2 linked regions of the Homo sapiens genome follow. The protein of the gene in region 1 interacts with the protein of each later gene in a biochemical or structural test. Each region holds a gene or a part of one and is shown on either strand. Other genes may lie near its edges.

Region 1 (7,027 bases):
GGAGGCTCGCTCTGTTGTCCAGGCTGGAGTGCAGAGGCGCGATCTCCACTCACTGCAAACCCCGCCTTCCGGGTTCAAGCGATTCTCCTGCGTCAGCCTCCTGAGTAGCTGGGATTACAGGCATGTGCCACCACGCTTGGCTAATTTTTGTGTTTTTAGTAGAGACGAGGTTTCGCCATGTTGGCCAGACTGGTCTTGAACAACTGACCTCAGGTGATCCGCCCGCCTTGGCCTCCCAAAGTGCTGGGATTACAGGCGTGAGCCACTGCGCCTGTCCTATAACAGCATTTAATACAGTTTTGTAAAATTATCACATTTTGGGCTTTTTGTTCAACAGTTGATGAAGTCTCAATTGTTTTAAAATGAGAAATTCAAACAGTTCACAAATATATCTAGATATATTCATTTGAGCTACTTGTAGAATGATGCTGTTTGCATATATCAAGCATATGCTTGATCATAAGTCAGATTTAGAATTTTTGGATTTTGTTTTCTCTTTCTAAAATGTGTAATTTTGGTAATGGGAAATTTGACTGAATTCCAGTTTCTCAGGAACAAGGTATTTTAGGTTGTGTCACCTTAACACTATTACCTGGTGTAATTGGCATCCGGGAACATTTGTTTTTAACTATGAGAGTGAATGAAAACTAGGGTAGTGCTTACATATGTAAAACTAAGATGGTAGGTAGTCGGATTCTTACAATTTATAAGGTTCTCATAATCTAAGCCTTGATGAGTTGCTACTGCAAATTATATTATAGATCAGATAAGTACCAAAGACCAGTTGTAAAGAGGGTCTGTTAACATTTTAATCAGTTTAAAATTGGCGGTAACAGTAAAGACCGTTCAGCCCAAAGACTGTATTTCATTATTTATATTCCAAATGAGAATTTTTTGCAGTTTGGAAAACTTGTAAATGTGTTGAATTCATCTTTTTATTGCTTTTTTACTCCCAATGTTTAGGGCAACGGTCTTTTCTTCTCTCCTGTCTCCCTCCCTCCCTCCCTTTCTCCCTTTTTCTTCTTTTTCTTCTTTTTCTTTTTTTTTTTCTGAGACGGAGTTTCGCTCTTGTCACCCAGGCTAGAGTGCAATGGTACGATTTCGGCTCACTGCAACCTCCACTTGCTGGGTTCAAGCGATTCCCCTGCCTCAGCCTCCCGAGTAGCTGAGATTACAGGCGTGCGCCACCATGCCAAGCTAATTTTTTTGTATTATTAGTAGAGGACGGGGTTTCACCATTTTGGGCAAGGCTAGTCTTGAACTCCTGACCTCAGGTGATCCACCCGCCTCAGCCTCCCAAGGTGCTGGGATTATAGGCATGAGCCACCGCGCCCAGCCTTTTTTTCCTTTTTCTTTCCATCTTGCTCAGTGCCCCAGCCTGGAGTACAGTGCTGCAATCATAGCTCACTGCAGCCTCTACCACCCAGGCTCAAGCAATCCCACTTCAGCTGCTGCGGTAGCTGGGACTACAGGCACACACCATCACACCTGTCTAATTTTTTGAAAAATTTTTGTAGAGATGGGGGTCTCTCTCTGTTGCCCAGGCTGGTCTTGAACTCTTGGGTTCAAGTGATCGTCCCACCTCGACCTCCCAAAGTGCTGGGATTAAAGGCATGAGCCACCACGCCTGGCAAGTAGTTTTCAATCTTGGCTGTACTTTTAGATCCCTTGAGGAGCTTTACAAAATACTGATACCTGAATTCTAGCCCCAGAAATTATGATTTGGTTGGTCTAGGGTGCAGCCAGGTTAGCCCTCCGCAGTGATTGAGTCATTAGGGTCCTCTGACTTTTTCTTTTGAACTGTTTCACTTGTGTTAGCTTTACATTCTTTAATACAGTGTTACACACATGTACAGTGTAGCCATCTCACACATCTAACTTAACGGGTCTTTTGAAAGTATTGCCACATTTGCTTTGCTTCTGTGTCTGTCTCTTTCTTTTCTCTCCCCCTTCCTGTCACCTATTCCTTTCTCCTCTGTTTCTTTCTTCACTTTCAGTTTATTTGAACTGTCTGGTAGTAAGTTTTAGGAAGCTGTATTTCCCATGATGAGAAGTTAGTATATCATCACTATTTTAAATAGGAAGTTGATTTTCTTTTAAAGTATATTCTCAAATGCTTACTTGTACTCCTTTTGGAGACTAATTACTTTAAGTCCCCAAGTTAGCATCTGAACTCCCTGTGGGCTTGGTCTGGTGGCTCACATCTATAATCTCAGCACTTCAGGAGGCTAAGGCAAGAGGATCACTTGAGCCCAGGATTTCAAGGCCAGCCTGGGCAACAAAGTGAGACCTCATCTCTAAAATAAATAAATAAATAAATAAATATAACTCCCAATGCAAATTGTCTTCTTAGGGCGTTAATCTACTTGGTAAACCTTACATTTTCAAGCCCCCAATTAACTAGTCACTTAACTGGTTTCTGAGAGGCAGGTTGCATTGGGCTTTTTCTGTCAGGGCTTAATTAATACACTGTGAGACATTTGCTCAGCTAGGCCAGCTAGCTAGTACTTCTGTAGAGATCATCTAGGGCATGTTCAGCTCTCCATTTACATCACCTGAAGTAGTTCCCAAGTGCTGGGCTATGGAGTAGTTTCATCTCTGTCTCTGGAAGAGCTATTTAAAAAAATAAAAATATTTTTTCCCATCTGATTGCAACACACATGCTGCTTCAGAATGGGAATGGAGTGGAGGAGGCATGGGAATCTGTGTTATTTTTAAAAAGTGCCTCTTGATTCTAAAGGTTTTGTTTATTTTGGTATGCTTATCCTTACTGCTTTATTTATCTATTTTTTAGAGACAGGTTGCCCAGGATGGAGTGCAGTAACATCATCATAGCCCTCTATAACCTTCAACTTCTGGGTTCAAGAGATCTTGCCTCAGCCTCCAGAGTAGCTAGGACTACAGGCCGGCACCACCACGCCTGGCTGATTTTTTTAAAACTGTTTTGTAGAAATGGGGGGGCGGGGGTCTTGCTTTGTTGCCCAGGCTAGCCAAATCTTATTTATGATTTAAAACTAGGAATGCTACCGAATATATATTTTTATAGTAAGGTATTATTTCTGTATGTTAATATGGATGAATGTATGCTACTCAGGTCTTTTCAAGTCAAAATGTATTTCTAAATATAAGATGAATTAAGGATATTTGTCAGTGATATTCACTAGTGAATTCTAGAGCATATGTTATCAGTAGATGGGCAGTCCTTGTAAAAATTGAATAATCTAGTGAAAGGATGACCGGAAATAATATTTAATGGGGTAAGCTAAGCCAGGAATCATTGTACATAAACACATTAGGTGTGTCTTACATCATAAATATGCCTACTAAAACTAGTTGAAGGAAGAATGTGTATAGATGCTGAAATAATGAAGGGGCTGGCTAATTGTAAGGAAAAATGATACAACTTCTATATAATTAGTCTTTTTAATCAGTTGCATATACTCATGATACTTAATTTGTAAAGTAAAGATTGTAGACTAGATCAATGCTTTGTAAAACTAACAGTACCTCAGACTTCCAGAGTGTTTTTTAAAGGTACAGCCCCACCCTTGATTCTAGTTAGTGGAGCTGGCCTAACCTGCGGGGGATTTTGATACATCCCCCTTTGAAGGAATAAGCTAGATGACTTGAAACTCTGCTTCAGTTAAAAGTTTTATGAAATGAGGCCGGGTGCGGTGACTCACGCCTGTAATCTCAGCACTTTGGGAGGCCAAGGGGGGTGCGGATTACCTGAGGTCAGGAGTTTGAGACCAGCCTGACCAACATGGTGAAACCCCGTCTCTACTAAAAATACAAAAATTCATTGGGCATGGTGGCACATGCCTGTAATCCCAGCTACTCACATGCCTGTAATCCCAGCTTCTTGGGAGGCTGAGGCAAGAGAATTGCTTGAGCCTGGGAGACAGAGGTTGCAGTGAGCTGAGATTGTGCCACTGCACTCCAGCCTAGCTGACAGAGCGAGACTGTCTCAAAAAAACAAAAAAAGTTTTATAAAATGTATTTTTCAGTTATCAGTTATTAAAATTCAGTTTGGTTTCCACCATCTTTTAAAACAGTGGTTCCCAAAGTATGGTCCACAGACTCCTGGAGATCCCTAGGATCCTTATATTTAAGGGGTTCACAAAATCAAAATTATTTTCATAATGAAACTGAGACGTTATTTGCCCTTTCACTGTGAGGACATTTGTATGGGTGGTGAAGGAGCAGTGGTGGGTAAACTGCTGGCACTTTAAAATGACTCTAGGCAGTTATACCAAACATATGAGTCCTCATTGTGTTCTTTATAGTCAAACACACATAAGCATTTGAAAAAATGCCGGTTTCACTTAATAATCCCCTTGCTGCAGCAGTAAAAAGGTTTAATTTTAAAAAAATCTCTACCTTGGAGTATGTCTTTTTAATAGTGTGATTAAATGGGAAGTATGCATAAAGCATTTCTGCACATTGAAGTACAGTGTTCTTTTCTAGGAAAAGCACTTGTGTTATTGAGCTGCAAGCTGAACTAGCTGCTTTTTAGTGGGACACCATTTTTATTTTTATTTAACAGGATGACAGATAAGCTCAGATAGCTATTTAGATTTGAGTATTTGGCAGGTAATTCCTTGGAAATGAATAAAGTGAGCTGGCCACTTCGAGGAGAACATTTATAGCCAGTGCTAAAATCTGATGTTTCAAGTGAAAATCAGATTTTTGGGAAACTCCTGTCACTATGACTTGCCAGTTTCTTAATACTTAAAGACTTTTCTGATGAGATGGGTGGTGATATTAAGGAATGTGATTAAAAAAAATATGTTGGGCTGGGCACGATGATGCACACCCATATTTCTAGCACTGTGGGAGGCGGAGGTGGGAGAATTGCTTTTGGCCAAGAGTTCGAGACCCTGTTTCTACAATAACATATAAAAATTAGGTGTAGTGGCATGTAGTTCTAGCTGCTCAGGAGGGTGAGGTGAGAAGATTGCTTCAGCCAGGGAGTTCAAGGCTGGATTAAGCTAGGATCGCACCACTGCACTCGGGCCTAGGCTACAGAGCGAGACTGTGGGGGGGGGGGCAGTATGAGGAAGTGTGTCAACACTGGGAAGATCTGTGTAACTCATTGAACCAATATTTTCCCAAATGACCAATTCATGTTACAAAATCGTGCATGGGTAGGCGATCCGTTCAAAGTACAACATAGACAAATGGATTTTTATATACACCAGAGCCAAAAAGTTCACTGATACAGTGAATTCCACATTGCAACTAACCTTTCAGAATTGCCACTTGAGTTTTGGTGTTGAATAAAAGATGAATATCCATTGTTTTCTGAGAAGGCTGTTAAAATACTCCTCTCTTCCAATTAGCTGTCCATGTGAGACACGTTTTCTTCATGTACTTTAAACAAAACAACATATCATAGCAGATTGAATGCAGAAGCAGATATGGGAATCCAGCTGTCTCCTATTAAGCTAGGCATTAAGAGAAATTTGTGAAGATGTAAAACAGTGTTACTCTGATTCCTGACTTTGTTTTAGAAAATTCTGTTTTTCATAAGATGTTTATATTAACGTAATGGGTTTATTATTTTAAATGAATTAATAAAGCAAATACCAAAAATTTTAGTAGTTTTATTTATTTATAATATGATAAATATCAATGTATATAGCCCGCATAAAAGCTATTTGGTGTCTTTAATAATGAAGAGTATAAATAAAGGTCCAACTTGGCCAACATGACGAAACCCTTTCTCTACTAAACATACAAAAATTAGCTGGGCATGGTGGTACATGTCTGTAATCCCAGCTACTTGGGAGGCTGAGGCACGAGAATCACTTGAACCTGGGAGGCGGAGGTTGCAGAGAGCTGAGAACATGCCTCTGCAGTCCAGCCTGGGCAACAGACTGAGACTATGTCTCAGAAAAAGAATATGAATAAAGGGATCCTGAGATCAGAGAGTTTGACAGCTGCTGTTTTAAAGTAACTATTTCTATGCATTATCGACTAAATTACTGATTGATTGAATTGTTTTTATGGTTTGTACTATATTGCTGTTATTTCTAAGGACGTTAGTCATTCAGTTTCTGTTCAGTTATCAGGGAACATGTAAGAGTCAGACTTAAGTAAAAAGGGGAATTCATTGGCTTGGTCTGGAGATAGAGCTGACCTCAGATTGCTATATCCAGGGTTTCAAGCAGCATCACCAGGACTCTTGACTTTGCTTTCTTTCTGTTTCTCAGGTAGTTTGCAGGCTAACTATCCCCAGCTTCAAGGAAGCATGAAGAGGGCCTTCCCCCCCCCACCCCCCCACCCCCCCACCCCCCGTAGTTCCATCGGAAGTGCTAGAGCTATGTCACTTGCCTGCCTTGCGTTCTTTTTCATCAGAAACAACACTGTGGCCAGGGGGTGGCTCTGGTTAGTCTGGGAATTGTCCCACCTGGCCAGATGGGGAGATTCTCCTTGGAAAATCAGACTGCTGTTTTACAAATGGAGAAATACATGCTGGTACACAAAAACTGATGTCCACCTATAGTACTTTGTTATTTCTTCTTTTAACAGCCTTTAATTTATTAATCCAAAAAGGGTAATTTTTAAATAAGATCATTTAAACTGAAGGTGGCATACCAAAATGACATTTAAGACACATAGGTAAACAAGAAGCATACATCTCGATTTGTCCTTTGTCATTCATCTTAAAAGTTAAAAAAAAACTTTTTGTTGCTTTTATTGCTGTATAAATGTGCTCTTGGAAGTTCGCCAACTGCCCTCAGTTTGAAGAACCTCAACTTGCTGTCTAGGATTTAGTCTTTAGCTTGTGCTGCAGACAGTTGCACTAACCGTGAACACCTTTTTTTCCTGTTGGTAAACCTAAGTTTAGAGTTTATTCCTAGTAATAACATTGATATATTACCAGGCCCAGCTTTTTTCTCCTCCCCTAGTTAAATTTAAGCACTTTTGCGCCGGGCATGGTGGCTCATACCTGTAATCCAGCACTTTGGGAGGCCAAGGCGGGCAGATCATGAGGTCAGGAGATCGAGACCATCCTGGCCAA
Region 2 (7,027 bases), on another chromosome or scaffold:
TCTTTTTTCCTGAACAGCTATTTTAGTGTCTCTGAAAAAAACCATCCACAGCCGTGAGCCTTCAGGGGCTGCCTGCCCTGCGTCCCCGGCCCTGTGCGCCCGAGCACTTATCTTTCTCCCTTGGGCCCAGGTCAGAGCCAGGCACCTGCCCCTCCCCTGGCCCCACCCTGCTTGTTCCCTGAGGGCTGCAGGGTGGGTGCACGTGCTGCAGGGGAGGCCACGGGCTTTGGCCAGATCTTCCCCCAGGGCCCTCCATCCCCATAATTGGAGCACCTTGATGGACAGCCTGCCCTGCGCCCCATCTTCCCCCTAGGGAAGCAGGGTCCCTGCTGCCTCCAGGAGGCTGGTTCCTGATGCAGCGTCTTCTCCTAGAGTCCTGGAGGTGGGAAGAGCCCCCGGCCCTGAGTGTGCTCTGTCCACCAAGGCTTCCTGGCTGAGGGCAAGGGCGGAGCCCCCACCGCCCGACTTTGCTGCCTCCTCTTGAGGTTGGCCTCGGCAGAGTGAGTGGGACCTCACCCCTGTGAAGGGCCCCTTGCCCTGTGTGGCCTGTTCTGCATTGGCCTGTGGTGTAGACCTGGTGCCAGCTGCCCTGGAGACTCTGTGCTGTCCTGTGGGGTCTTTGGCAGTAGAGGAATGGCCCATTTTACGGAGACTGCCCTGTGATTTTGCTTGGGAAGAGACCTTGGGTCTCAGTTGTGCCTTGCGGGCAGCACCGTCTCAGGGGTTTCCAGCCGCAGGGCTGTGGGAGTTCACGTTTGCCTGAGGCTGGATGTACCGGCTCAGGCCCCCAGCACACAACCCACATCACTCACTGGCTCTTGGGGGATGTGCCTCAGCACCTGACACACAACACCTGGTTCTGAGTGGGCTGGGTCCAGGCACCTTCGCTAAGCTTCCTCCACCAGCGGGACCTGGTTCTGGGTGGGCTGGGTCTGGGCACCTTCGCTAAGCTTCCTCCAGCACCGGGGCTGGCAAGGAGCGAGGCAAAGGTGTGTGTGGTGCCATCCTGTAGGAGCCAGGCTCCTTGGGGATGGTGTCCTTCATTTTGAAAATGTTTCCTTCCCATGGGGAGGGGGCAGCCAGAATGCCCACTCTTTAATGCACCTGTGCCAGTGGCCCACAGGGACACGGTGTCCCCTCCCCGCGACCACCCCTGTGCCGCAGCTGCCCTTCCCAGACGCATCCGTCGTGAGTGGCTCTCGCCGTGCTGTGGCTGGTTGAGCTGAGTGCCCAGCGCTGGGCACCCTCTGAGGACACACTCGGGTTCTAGGAAAGGGGTTTGGCAGGAGAAGGACGAGGGACTCCTGGCCAGGCTGAGCCGCTGTGGAAGGGGAGAGTGGGTCTTGGTGCTCCATCCCAAACCTGCTGCAGCCGTGGGTGAGGTCACCCGGAATGGCAGGACAAGGTCCACTCTGTTCTCTCGGAGATGACTTGTCCCTCAGCACAGCCTCCACGTGCCTGTTGCGCGTGGCCTAAGGGCCTTTATGCAAAGTGAACTTGGTCTCCTGGGGGGTGCCCTGGAATCTGCCTTCTGCGCCACTCAGGGTCGTTTGTGGCCGGAGTGCATGGGGCTCTGACTGCCATGTGCCAGCCACGGGGCTGGTGGAGGGACCCTGCCCTGGGAACCACAGGTGCCAACAAAACCTTTCATTGATCGCAGGTCTCCTCTGAGCCTCCGGCCTCCATAAGACCCAAAACAGATGACACCTCTTCCCAGTCCCCCGCGCCTTCCGAAAAGGACAAGCCGTCCAGCTGGCTGCGGACCTTGGCCGGCTCTTCCAATAAGGTGCTGTGGGGCCTGTCGGGGTCCTTGGGGTGGTGGGTACTGGGCCCTTCTCCTTGGGCAGACCCAGCGGCTGGCAGCTCCACCTGCCCGCTACTGAGGGCTGGCACCCGGCGCAGCCTCAGGGACATGAAGTGGCTTGTTTTTCTCCTGGTCACTCACACAGACAACTCTTTCTCGACAGAGCCTGGGCTGTGTTCACCCTCGCCAGCGCCTCTCTGCTTTCCGACCCTGGTCCCCCGCAGTGTCAGCGAGTGAGAAAGAGCTCTCCCCACACCTCCCGGCCCTCATCCGAGACAGGTGAGTGGGCGCCATTCACAGGTGTTTCTGATCACGGGGGAGGCTCCACGAGGGCTGTGCATGCGGACGCGCCCATGTTTCTGCAGGCTGGGTGCCCAGACCTGCCGCCTTTTGGTCAGGGCAGTCTCGGTGTTGGTTCCTTTGGCTGGCATCAGGGAGAGCACACCTAGAGCGTTCCCTGTGTTCTGGGTGGAGTCGTGGGTGGAGCCCTGTCTGCTGGGCGCAGCTTCTTGATGTGTTGGCCTGTGTCTGGCCTTCGCAAGAGACCCAGCAAGCAGAAAACGCTTACGGGTTCTTAGGGAACTGTAAGCTTGACTTGAAGATTCGGAGCTGGGAAAGTCTTTCCTGTTTAACACCTTCAGAGGGGGTGTGCGCCAGGATGTGTCTGGGTGGTGCTTGGGGACAGAGGCACCTTCCCGACACCCGCCTGCCCCTCCAGCTTCTACTCCTACAAGAGCTTTGAGACAGCCGTGGCGCCCAACGTGGCCCTCGCACCGCCGGCCCAGCAGAAGGTTGTGAGCAGCCCTCCGTGTGCCGCCGCCGTCTCCCGGGCCCCCGAGCCTCTCGCCACTTGCACCCAGCCTCGGAAGCGGAAGCTGACTGTGGACACCCCAGGAGCCCCAGAGACGCTGGCGCCCGTGGCTGCCCCAGAGGAGGACAAGGACTCGGAGGCGGAGGTGGAAGTTGAAAGCAGGGAGGAATGTACGTGTGAGTCGCTTTCTGTGCCTCCTCCCTGTGGGCTGTGGGGGTGGCACTGGCTGAGGGGGGCTGGTCGCCGGGGGTGCGTTGGTGGCCCCATGTTTCGCAGGTTCCTCCGGGAGCGGCGCGTCTCCCTGGTGTGGAGCTGCCGGGCACTTCCATGACTTTGTTTCTGTCTCTGCTTCCTCCTCAGTCACCTCCTCCTTGTCCTCGCTCTCTTCCCCGTCCTTTACCTCATCCAGCTCCGCCAAGGACCTGGGCTCCCCGGGTGCGCGTGCCCTGCCCTCGGCCGTCCCTGATGCTGCGGCCCCTGCCGACGCCCCCAGTGGGCTGGAGGCGGAGCTGGAGCACCTGCGGCAGGCACTGGAGGGCGGCCTGGACACCAAGGAAGCCAAAGAGAAGTTCCTGCATGAGGTGGTCAAGATGCGCGTGAAGCAGGAGGAGAAGCTCAGCGCAGCCCTGCAGGCCAAGCGCAGCCTCCACCAGGTGAGCGGGGCGAGTGGTGCTGGGAGGTCCAGGGCACGGGCAGTGAGCACAGCCTGCACCAGGTGAACGGGCACAGGTGGTGCCTCCTCCCTTCCTGGCTGCCCCATGCGCTCCTCTCTGCCTCCACCTCAGTGGGCCTGCCTGGGACCTTGGGGGTCCGTCTCCCAAAAGCTGCAGCCCTGGGTATGGTGAGCCCCTCAGTGTCCCCAGGCTGATGGACATCCCAGGAGGCCACTACATTTGGCTTGACCACAGCTTTCCCCATCAGGATCACACACCCTGCGTGGTGGCCCCACTGAGGAAGTAGCCATGTTTCTCTGGTATAAGGGAGGCCGGGCTATTTTTAGTGGCAGAAAGAGTTGGGAGCAGCTGCATGGAGACAGTTCCTTGCTCTGTGTGCTCCAGGAGTGGGTGTTCACGCGCTCCGCCAGCAAGACCTGGCGTCTGCAAAACACAGGCGTGAGGGGCGTGCTTACTAATGCCTGGTGTTCCAGAAGGCGGCTCCCGCCAGGCCTCCCGAGTAGGAAGGAGAGGGCTCGGCCCGCACAGACACACACACACCCACCTGCACACGCTGCTTCTCTGGGCTCTGCCTCACGGTTCTCACGCTGCAGCTCCGGTCTCGCGCCTCCTTTTACGTTGTTTAGGTTTCTTTCTGACATGACTGAGGGAAGTGCGGTTCACAGGCAGAGCTGCCTGGGGAGAGAGGTGTGCAGGCGGCCCGTTGTTCACCGGGCCCCGGCCTCGCTAAATTCACACCTCGGCGGCGTCTGGCAGCTTCCGCGGCGTGGGCTTTAGCACAACACAACCCCGTCGGCCCTCAGAGCTGCAGGGTTGCCGACGTGCCCTCCTGCGCGTGCCAGTCCCTCGCCCCAGCACGTCCCCCGCCACTGTTGTCCTTGATTCTGGTTGGAGGTGTGATTTCCCACATACATATTCATGTGGTGTGTTTGCAGCGTGGGGTGTGAGTCACACGGATATTTTAATGGGGAGAGTGGGGGGGCTTGCGGAGGCGCCGGGCGGATGGACGTGTCCATCTGGCTGCGTGGGGAGACCCGGGGCCCTCAGATGGTGCGATGTCTGAGGCTGCCCTCCTCACATTGATGGGAGCCAGGGCCTACTTGGCTTGCTGCCCCCAAGGGGAACGTGGCCCTAGATACCGGGGGAGGCCCCGCCGCAGCCTCAAGTGACTGACTCAGGCCCCCAGGTTTAGCACAGCTGCCACAGGCCTGGCGGAAACTCCGGATGGGGGTCTGAAAAGCCTTTGTGGGGTCGGGGCACCACACGGGTTGGGCTGATGGCGCGCTGGGGGCGGGGCTCCAGGGCACATTGTCAGATAGATGACCCCACGGGGTGGGCTGAGGACTGCTGGTCATGGTGAGGGGTGTGCTGGGACCGGCTGGGCAGTGACCCCGAGCCGCCTCCGGCCCCCAGGAGCTGGAGTTCCTACGCGTGGCCAAGAAGGAGAAGCTGCGGGAGGCCACGGAGGCCAAGCGTAACCTGCGGAAGGAGATCGAGCGTCTCCGCGCCGAGAACGAGAAGAAGATGAAAGAGGCCAACGAGTCACGGCTGCGCCTGAAGCGGGAGCTGGAGCAGGCGCGGCAGGCCCGGGTGTGCGACAAGGGCTGCGAGGCGGGCCGCCTGCGCGCCAAGTACTCGGCCCAGGTATGCGGGTGGGGAGACTGAGGCACGCAGCACGGTGGGCGTGGAGCCGCCGTGGGCCCCGGTGGCCAGTCCTGCCCAGCCGGAAAGGCCTTGGAGCAGAAGCCAGGCCCGGGACCACGTTCCGTGCGTGCCCCCCCGACGGGCACAGGGTGGGTGGTTGCTGGGCCCTGCGTCTCGTGAGCCTGTGTCCTAGCAGGTGGAGGAGGGGCCGGCACGCGGCACTGGGGAGGGACAGGGAGCGGCGCAGGAGCCTCGGGTGGGGGAAGCAGCGTCGGGCCGGGGCAGGGCAGCGAGCAGGCGCCGCTGACCACTCGGCTCCCTTTCAGATCGAAGACCTGCAGGTGAAGCTGCAGCACGCGGAGGCGGACCGGGAGCAGCTGCGGGCCGACCTGCTGCGGGAGCGCGAGGCCCGGGAGCACCTGGAGAAGGTGGTGAAGGAGCTGCAGGAACAGCTGTGGCCGCGGGCCCGCCCCGAGGCTGCGGGCAGCGAGGGCGCTGCGGAGCTGGAGCCGTAGATTCCGTGCCTGCCGCCGCAGCGCCGCCGACAACGCGGGTGCAGGGGGGCGCGGCTGGGCGGTGCAGCTCCGCCCGGCTCCGCCCCTGCAGCCCACACAGCACAACGTCTTACCGTGCCTATTACCAAGCGAGTGTTTGTAACCATGTAGTTTTGGAACCCACTGCAAAATTTTCTACTGGCCAAGTTCAAGTGAGTAAGCCGCGTCCCCCAACTACAGCTGGAGACGGGGCCAGCTCGGCGGCCTGCTGGTCCTCTGCTTGCTGGAACATTCTAACATTTACACTTTTGTTATAAGCTATTTAAAACCAGTAAGGAGACTTGAAATTCAGAAAATCAACACATTTTTAAATGACTAACTTCTAAAAGCCCCAACACATGACGCCATCTGAAGACCCGCAACGGAGTGGGGGTGGCGGCCGCCCCACCCTCCCCACCCGGGGAAGCCATCACAGCTCATCTGCCCGCGGCTGCGTGAGGACAGCAGGGGTTTTTCTTCAGAGTCTATTTTTTCAGCGACAAGGACCCAGGTCTTCCTGCTGCTGCCAGGGAGAGCAGGGACAGTGCCGCGTGCGAGATGAGCTCGAACACTGCCCGCCTTACTGCCGCCTACCCCGCCCGCCACGCCGCCGTCGATGCCAGCGCTGTCCCCACGGGTACCAGGAAGTGCAGAGCCGCACAGGAGCTGCCCCGGAGCTGAGGGGACGGTCTTCGGCTCCTCTGCACCCCGTGATTCTGCCCACGCTCCTCCACCACGAGGCACTGACCTGCGTCGGGTGGTGACCGTGGCTGGCGGTCACGCCCTCAGCCCCTCCGGGCACACGTGCCGCCTGACCGGGCGACCCTTTTCAGTTCGGCAAACGTCGCTCCCTTCATTTTGGGACTGAGGCTGCAGCATTGGAACAAAAGAGCATTATTTCAATTTTTCTTTCTTTTTTTTTGTTCGTTCATTTAAACGTATATTTAGAACTGCACTTTGTCCACAACCTTCCCTTCTCTTTCTATTCCCCAGTGAACTGAGGTTTTTACCGATTTATAGAGCAGTCAAATCCGAAGTGCTCGAGTGCTTAGAAACCCCCTCTGGTGCTTGGTTGAACAAGGGAATCACAAGAAAACGAAAATGCAAAAACTGAACTTCGGGGGTCGTTCTGTGCCTTCCAGCATCTTGTACAGCAAATCCTGACTCGTGTCTTTTTACCCCCAAGATATCTGTCTTCAGTAGCGACTGAATCTGCCACTCTCAGAATAAGTTCCTTGCATTTATTCCAAATAATCTCGTTTACTCTCACCTGTTTATGCAAATTGTATAAGGTTTCTTATGCCCAAGCTTGAAAAATGATTTCCCAGTAGACAAGAGGCGGCTACCTATCCTACAGTTACGGTATTTATTTACATAAGAAGATCTTACAGGAGTTCTTTGCTTGAATCCGTTCTAACACCCGCGGCAGCTGCACGCGCTCACAGAAGGTGGAGGTTACTTGCCCAGGTACAGACGACCTCGGGGCAGTGACGAGCAAAGACCAGAGACTGCTGAGCCCTCGCATCTGGGTGGCGGAATTGCCTGCGGGGTTTTGCCCTTG

The links.
Region 2: the proteins of SMAD4 (region 1) and SKI form a complex in vitro, tested with the Homo sapiens proteins (3 studies listed by BioGRID and IntAct, with this or other methods).

The regions. Positions count from the first base shown.
Region 1 is NC_000018.10:51,033,213-51,040,239, forward strand, and holds part of SMAD4 (mothers against decapentaplegic homolog 4), read left to right. Parts: intron 1-7,027. UniProt on the Homo sapiens protein: In muscle physiology, plays a central role in the balance between atrophy and hypertrophy. When recruited by MSTN, promotes atrophy response via phosphorylated SMAD2/4.
Region 2 is NC_000001.11:2,301,318-2,308,344, forward strand, and holds part of SKI (ski oncogene), read left to right. Parts: intron 1-1,660; coding exon 1,661-1,786; intron 1,787-1,967; coding exon 1,968-2,083; intron 2,084-2,522; coding exon 2,523-2,785; coding exon of another isoform or gene 2,786-2,791; intron 2,792-2,975; coding exon 2,976-3,268; intron 3,269-4,702; coding exon 4,703-4,933; intron 4,934-5,259; coding exon 5,260-5,448; 3' UTR 5,449-7,027. UniProt on the Homo sapiens protein: May play a role in terminal differentiation of skeletal muscle cells but not in the determination of cells to the myogenic lineage. Functions as a repressor of TGF-beta signaling.